2 linked regions of the Homo sapiens genome follow. Changing the gene in region 2 together with the main gene of any one other region gives a genetic interaction. Each region holds a gene or a part of one and is shown on either strand. Other genes may lie near its edges. The genes, in order: FABP4 and SLC16A8.

Evidence for each region.
Region 1: changes in SLC16A8 (region 2) and FABP4 together harm fitness more than expected from each alone (negative genetic interaction), as found in Homo sapiens cells (one large-scale study listed by BioGRID).

Annotation. Positions count from the first base shown.
Region 1 is NC_000008.11:81,481,035-81,484,951, reverse strand, and holds the start of FABP4 (fatty acid-binding protein, adipocyte), read left to right. Parts: upstream 1-1,718; 5' UTR 1,719-1,784; coding exon 1,785-1,857; intron 1,858-3,917.
Region 2 is NC_000022.11:38,077,588-38,081,452, forward strand, and holds the end of SLC16A8 (monocarboxylate transporter 3), read right to left. Parts: coding exon 3,253-3,865; intron 2,781-3,252; exon of another isoform or gene 2,026-2,780; intron 1,361-2,025; exon of another isoform or gene 1,267-1,360; intron 1,147-1,266; exon of another isoform or gene 1,118-1,146; coding exon 801-1,117; 3' UTR 550-800; downstream 1-549.

The sequences.
Region 1 (3,917 bases), on a different chromosome or scaffold from region 2:
GTGGTGGGCACCTGTAATCCCCGCTACTAGGGAGGCTGAGGTAGGAGAATCGCTTGAACCTGGGAGGCAGAGGTTGCAGTGAGCCAAGATCGCGCCACTGCATTCCAGCCTGGACAATAAAATCAAAACTCCATCTCAAAAAAAAAAAAAAAAAAGAAAGAAATTACCAATTGAGTACAATATACACTATTTGGGTGATGATTACACTAAAAGTCCAGACTTTATTACAACTCAATATACATATGTAACAAAAATGCACATGTAGTCCGAAATCTATAGAAACAAAAATTTTAAAAAACCAAATTGCAGTGTTAGAATACACATAGTATGTATTCAAATTCAATCATTTAAAAACCTGTAGGAAGCAAATTAATTTAAAACATTATCAAAAACATCCCTCTATTAAGATTTGTCACTTTTATTTACTTTCCATCTGAACAGTCTTATTCAATGGGAAACAGGTGGATCACTAATAGCAAGCCTACCTGGATGGTACATCACCACAGTCTGTGTATCTATGCAACAGTCCAGAGTAGATGAGCGTTATTACTGTGCCATTAACAAATGCAAAACCTAACTTTATCAGGCTTTCATAGCAACTTGCTTTCCTACAGAAAATCCTGTTGCTTACAGAATTTCCTGCCACAAACATTTTTGGGAAGCCCTCAGGACACTTACACAGGCTTGTGAATCAATCACATGCTCAGCAGGTACTGTTCAGTGGGATACACAGTGTAGCGATGCATCACTCTGAAATATTTTAGTTTCTTTTTTTCCCCTAAATCTGGGTATGTTCGTGGGAATTTGCAGCACATGTGAACAACTTCTGTCATTCTTGCATGAGGCAAAGGGAATTGAAAACCACGATTACTTTAGAAAACTAGTTTCACAGATTGGTCACTGTATAAAAGAAGGATATTGGTTTTGGTAGCTTGTGACCACACACCATTTCTGATCTGAATAAATTCAGAACTTATAATACAGTTCAGAAATTGAATGCAGTTTCTCAATATGAGGAAAGTATTTTAGAATAAGGCCTATTTTTCAAAGGATCTGTGGAAATCAATGCTATGCTCTCATTTAGGAGATGGAAAGAGTGAGGTTAAATTATCATTTCGATTAAATCTACAGTCCAGATTACTGGTGGATGAATTGAATGTACTTTTTTATTCATATAAAACATTTGAAATCAGAAATCTGGAGTACTTTTAAATCCCATTATTTATTTTGTTTTAATCGCCAGGTAATTCCTGAGACAGGAGTGTCCCGAAGAGCCTTTGCAATTATGTAAGAATCTCCGAGGCAGTTCTTATGTTCCTCAATTCAAAAGAACCACATAACTGCAATTTAAATAACACCCCACACACACACACAAAATAAGGTCGAAGTTTATCTCAAAATAATTTCCCCTCTCTACACTGGGATAAATATGTATAGGAATAATAGGGGGAAATTCAGTGCACTGAGCATTAAGCTGTCAAAACAGGAATGTTTAAAATATCCTGTTAGTGGTTTAAAAATAATTTGTACTCTAAGTCCAGTGACTATTTGCCAGGGAGAACCAAAGTTGAGAAATTTCTATTAAAAACATGACTCAGAGAAAAAAATGCAGAGGCCGGTAATGAAGGAAATGATTGGATCTCATTCCCAATTGGTCATTCCTAAGATCACATGTTCTGAGCATCTTTAAAAGGAAGTTATCTGGACTCAAGAGGGTCACAGCACCCTCCTGAAAACTGCAGCTTCCTTCTCACCTTGAAGAATAATCCTAGAAAACTCACAAAATGTGTGATGCTTTTGTAGGTACCTGGAAACTTGTCTCCAGTGAAAACTTTGATGATTATATGAAAGAAGTAGGTAAGGAAATGCGTTGTGGAATGACTGGATTTATAATATTTTCTTTTGGGAAAAAGAGTTTACAGCTGTGTTTATAGCAATGTCTGGAAGCCCTGGCCAGAAATGAAAAATGCTGCTTTCTATAGAGAGGCTGCACACATAGCAAGTGATAATCATTTGTTTCTAGAGAAATTCTGAACCAAAGCTACAACTAATGTTTCCTAAAGGTGTACCAATATAAAAAGGTGTCTAAATGGAATGTTTATTGTCTTTAGAAATGATAAGATTTGACTTTATTTGAAAAACTTGGGTATCCTTGGTTTACTTAGCTCTTTGCCTGTTTCTCTTTCATCCCCTTTTGCATGTAAATTAAGCAATAACTTGGAAAAAAGTTAGTATGCAATAATTTTCATTTCAAACTGAAAGCACTCTAGTTCCCTTAATGCAAGGTTCTTTTTCAGTAACCGTATGTTAGCCAATTATTTTCTTGTCTCAATGTTAATCTATTAAAATATGTGGTTGTTTTATGATAGACAAAAATTTTAATTTCAGAAAATATGTTTCTTAAATGGCTTAAATACTTCCTTTGACTAGAAATGACATAGTATGCCATAGAATTATCAACCAATTTAAAAGGAGAATGTTACGCATATAACATACCTCTTCTTTGATAGTAGAGGTTTTTAATTTTTTAGACGCTGTTAACTGTCAGCATGTCATTGGATGAATGTCTCTCAGATAACTATGGAGGTAAATCAGAAAAGACAACTTCTCACTCAGGCAGCTTCTACTTTGAAAACCTTTCTCCCTCAACCCCATGCATGACAGTCCAATAAAGTCAGAACTGGGGTTAGCAAACTGGGGAGGAATTTTATGCAATCTTAGGGTTTAGAATGTAATCATTAAATCGCAAAACACTTAACCCTCCTGTAAATTATACAGTATATATTTTTTTGCTTGTCTGTAACTATGTTTCTTGTTTTTAGATGATAGGGAAATTGGTGACTTCAGCATGAGAGAGACTTTCTAGAATAAACTAGAGTGATTCAATAAACTAATTAATATGCACTGATGCAGAAAAGCCAGGATTTGGGGCCATTTAACTATTTATTTTTAGAAAAATGTTATACTTTTAATATTTATATTTTCTAATAATACTGTGTTTTTAAATTATAAAGGGCTGATTATAATTAAAGTCAATAAAACACCTTCTGCATGAAATTAGCTGCTGTAATTGAGGATGAGTGGGCAGGTATTGTCTTCATCATCAAATAAAAGCAAAATCAAGCAAATGGAGACTGGTTTTTCCCAAGGTCAGTCATTCTAGAATCACACTCAGTTTTGCCTGCATTCACGAAGTGGACTCACTTCATACATTTAATGTTATATTTTGTAACTGAGCCAGGACATGAAGACACACCTGTGGCCATTTTTCAGACAGACAGCCAAATCGGAGCCTCAGCATTACTTATTTTGCGCCATATATCTCTCCCAGTTCTTCCCAATTTCTAACCTTTGGTTGCCTTTAGTCAAAGAAAGAGCTTAGATTTACATGCACATGTTTAAAAAATTCAGCAAATCTATGACTGCCATAAACTCTGCATGACATACACAGTGTCAGCAAGTTACTGCTATGTTAGGCTGTAAATTATTCATTCCATACCTTGCACAAGAAAATATATTCCCCTTTTTAAGAAAGAAAAGTTCACAACTTAGGTGACTGGAAATCAAAGTATTGGCTTCTAACCTATTTTAAACTAAGAAATAGTGATTTATTAAATGTTAAAGTTTTCACAATTTGATGACTAGTCCCTTTTAAATATCCCCTATAAATTATTAGCAATGATATCACCATTCTAAAATGTTATAAATGTAGGAAACATTTTGCCTTTTGTAGAAATTCATGAAAATCTTCATTTCATGGTGGAGTAATTTGAGAAAGAAGCACAGAAAAGTAGACTTGGCAACAAATGCTATGAAATGTGACTTTTGTATACTCAAAACAGACGAACCTTTAACTAAATAACTCTACATTAACCCCCAAAATTCTGTTGAAAATTCTGTCTTTGTGCCTTCTTAAA
Region 2 (3,865 bases):
ACATGGCCACCTCGTGGAAGGCAGCAGGGCCCATGGTGTTACTGAGCGCCTGGTCCCACCCTCCCCAGGACCCCAGGGGACGGAGTCGTATGCTCAGCCTCCAGTGAGCAAGGAAGTCAGCGGGGCTGGGATTCAAACCGACCCTGACCCTGGGAACTGTGAGTCTTCTCAGACCGCTCGGGCCCCCCGCCTGCAGGCAGACCCCAACCTTGAACCCTAGTTGCTGCCAACCCCTCGTTCCCTCCACGGGAAAAGGCAGATGCCAGCGAGGGGGCCTTCAGCAGACAGCTCTGAGCAGTGGGGCTGGGCAGGAGCCAGGCACTGTGCCCACCCAGCCCTGTGCCCCTGAGCCCTGTGCCCGCCCAGCCCCTTGTGTCTCTACACCTGGGAACGATGGGTCTCTTCATCCATCTCTGACGCTTCCTCCCAACACTGCCCACCTAGAAGCCTGCTTAGGGGGCCTGGAGAGAGACCTCCCAGACTCCCTCCCACCACCCTGACCCCCAACTCAGGTGGCAGCCGGAGCCTGGGCGGAGGAATAGAACCTTCTGTCGTTCAGCTGAGCTTTATCACCAGTTTCCTGTTGCTCCATAGCAGCTTCACTGGCGATGGGGCAGGGCCTGGCGGAACTTGGGGCACAGATGAGGGAGGCAGTTCCCAGACACCCAGGGGATCAACTGGAGCCCAGACGTGGACCCCGGGAGTGACCACCCCAGACCAGCCTCCCAGCGTACCAGGCTCTCTGAGACAAGAAGCTGTGTTCCCAAGTCACTGGGCCACCCCACCCAGAGCACCCTGAGTTATACAGACTCGGCAGCCAGCCTCGGCCTCGCCTCTATTTCTGGTTCTGTGGGCTCGCCCCGGGCGCTGAGCACCTCCAGGGCCTCCAGGTTGCCGGGTTCCTCTGCAACAACAGGCAGGGGCTCAGAGTCCCCTTCAGCCTCAGCGTCCTCAGTGTCACTGGCTCCGCCCTCAGTGCCTGGGCCTGACGGGGCAGCTTTAGCACAACGCAGGCAGCAGTTGGTGGCGACAGCCATGAAGACCCCAGCCAGGGCCACCTCAGAGCCGGCCAGGTAGAAGATGATCTCATAGTTCTTCAACACATCCACCAGGCGGCCTGGGGAGGAGGAGGAAGAGGAGGGAGAGGTAAGGTCCTGTGGGGTCCTCCCCTCACTCTCCTGCACTCTCAGGTCAAGGGTGGTGCCACTGACTTGGTGAGGCTCCTGGGTGACACACACATGCCCACTCTTTATTCCTGTTTTACAGATGTAAAACCTCATGTGGATTCTGCCATTTGAAACCTTAAAAATGTCACTTGCTGTCCCTGGACCTCAATTGCTTAAGTGATATGTGGCTTCTGGTGAGGCGTCCCCTCCACCCTCTGATTCAAGCCCCACAAGTGTCCTGTGACTTGCTTGGCAGTGGGGTATCTGGGGTGGGAGCGGGGAGGGGGCCCTGGGCTTAGCTCTGCCCTCCTGGGGGCCTCCACCTCTTGCTGTTGCCATGTAAATGCCCTGGTCCTCAGGGGCTTGGCTTAGTCCTCCCACCCCTCTGTCCCAGGAGGCCCATGAGCATCCCAGACCAAGCCATCATCGGCACAGGTGGGGCTTGTGGGCCAGTAACTCATTTCCTTCTCTATTTCTCAAGGCTTCTATCCCTTGTAGATACTACTTTCAAACTCAGGAAAGTCTCTCTTTTATTATGTTTTTTTTAGGGATGGGGTCTTGCTGTGTTGCCCAGGCTGGTCCTGAACTCCTGAGCTCAAGGGATCCTCCCGACTTGGCCTCTCAAAGTGCTGGGATTACAGGTGTGAACCACTGCACCTGGCTTCAGGAATTTTCTTATTCTTTTGAGACAGGGTCTCACTCCATTGGCCCAGGCTGGAATGTAGTGGTGCCATCTTGGCTCACTGCAACCTCCACCTCCTGGGCTCAAGCCATCCTCCCACTTCAGCCTCCTGAGTAGCTGGAACCAGAGGTGCACGCCACCACACCTAGCTAATTTTGTTTTGTTTTGTTTTGGTAGAGACAGGGTTTTGCCATGTTGCCCCGGCTGGTTTCAGACTTCTGGCCTCAGCCCCCCAAAGCGCTGGGATTACATGCATGAGCCACTACACCCGACCAGGAAAATCTCTTAATTGCAAGTATTTCCCCCTAAAGTGTGGTTTGTCTGTGTGCTCCACCCTCTCTCTAGGTCATTCTCCTCACCCCATGCACCTCCTCTGCCCATCAGATCCATCCAGATTCACACAAGAAATGGAAGACGGTTCCTTGAGGCCTGGGCAGGCTGGTTTTGTGGCCTGCCCACACACTGGCTCAGGGACTTTGCCGTTCTCACTGGGTCAGGTGGGATGACAGAGCTCAGTGAGGGCACTCGATTAGCCCAGCCCTGAAGGAAGGACGAGCAGCTCACCCCATCTCAGTGCAGCCTGCGGCCCCCGCAAGGTGTCCTCCCTGGTTACTGCACCATCTCACAGCCCTCTAGCCTCTGGGACTCAAAGGCAGGCTCCCTTGCTGTTTCAAGATAACTTGACAACCCAGGAAAACCCTCATGTCCCCCACTCCCACCTTTCCAATTTTGGTTCCTGCCTTGCTTGCATAAGGACGCTGTTCCCCCCCAACAAGCCCTGCCCATCCATGCTGTGCCTTCACCTGGGGGATATTCCAGGAAGCCTTCCCTGACCACCCTCATGACGATGACTTCCTAAGGGTGACGGTGACAAGTGCCAGCAGGCCATCTGCACAGTGAAAGACACCAGTGCTTCTCCCCATCTGCCCGCTGAGCACCCCCACTCTGTTTCTGGCCCCAACACCAGTTTCCCAAAGATACTGTCCCCATTCCAGTCACCATTCTAGATGCACCATTCTAAAGGCGTGGGCATTTAGCAGCAGGTACACTGAGGCTCTCATTCTGGGGCTGCAACTTGCGCTAAGGCTTTGTGCCTCAGTTTCCTCATCTGCAAAATGAGAATAAGCACCTGCGCTCCAGATGGCCTTGTGCCAACTGCTTGGGATGGCAGATCTGGCCAGCTACCAGTGTTGCTTTCTTCCCTGCACCTTCCTGGGCTTTTCTGTCCTCACCCAGAGCGGGCGGTCCGGCTTGGAGGAGGGACTAACTGGCCGTGAAGGGGAGTCCACCCACCCGACTGCCCCTTCCCCTCATCCCTGGAAGTTCCATCTGAGACAGGGGGATGGAGCTTCCCTGGGTCTAAGGGGCACTAGGCTCGCCACCCCCTCTTCCTTCGGGGCGCACCGGCAGAGGGCGGTCCGATGAGCACAGCCGCGGCCTCCACGAGCAACACCAGGCCCAGCGCACTGGGGAAGCGGGGCGCGCCCACAGCCGCCATGAGCACCTCGAACTGCAGCGCGCCCACCATGCCGTAGGAGAGGCCGAAGGCGACGCAGAAGGCGACGAGGGCGCCGTAGGAGCGCGCGCGTGCGCTGCTCAGGTCTGTGAGCCCATTGGCCAGCAGGGCCAGGCTGAACAGATACGGGACGTGCGGCCGCAGACGCGCCAGGCCCGCCAGGGCGCCGCACGCCGGGCGCGCCACGATGTCCACGAAGCCCACGATGGACAGCAGGAAGGCGGCGTCGGTGTCGGGCACGCCCGCGTCCTTGGCGTAGTTCACCAGCAGGATGGCGGGGACGAAGAGCCCGAGCGCCATCAGGAACTTGGTGACGGCGTACACGGCGAAGGCGCGGTCGGTGCACACTGCCAAGTCCAGCAGGCGCCGGCGGGGCCGGACCCTGGGGGATGCCTCGCGCAGCTGCAGCCCCGCACCGTCAGCCTCCGCCTCGCCCGGAGCGTCCCCGGCGCGGTCGCCGGCGCTGTCCCTGCGCGGTCGCGGGCCCGGCCCGGGCGGCGG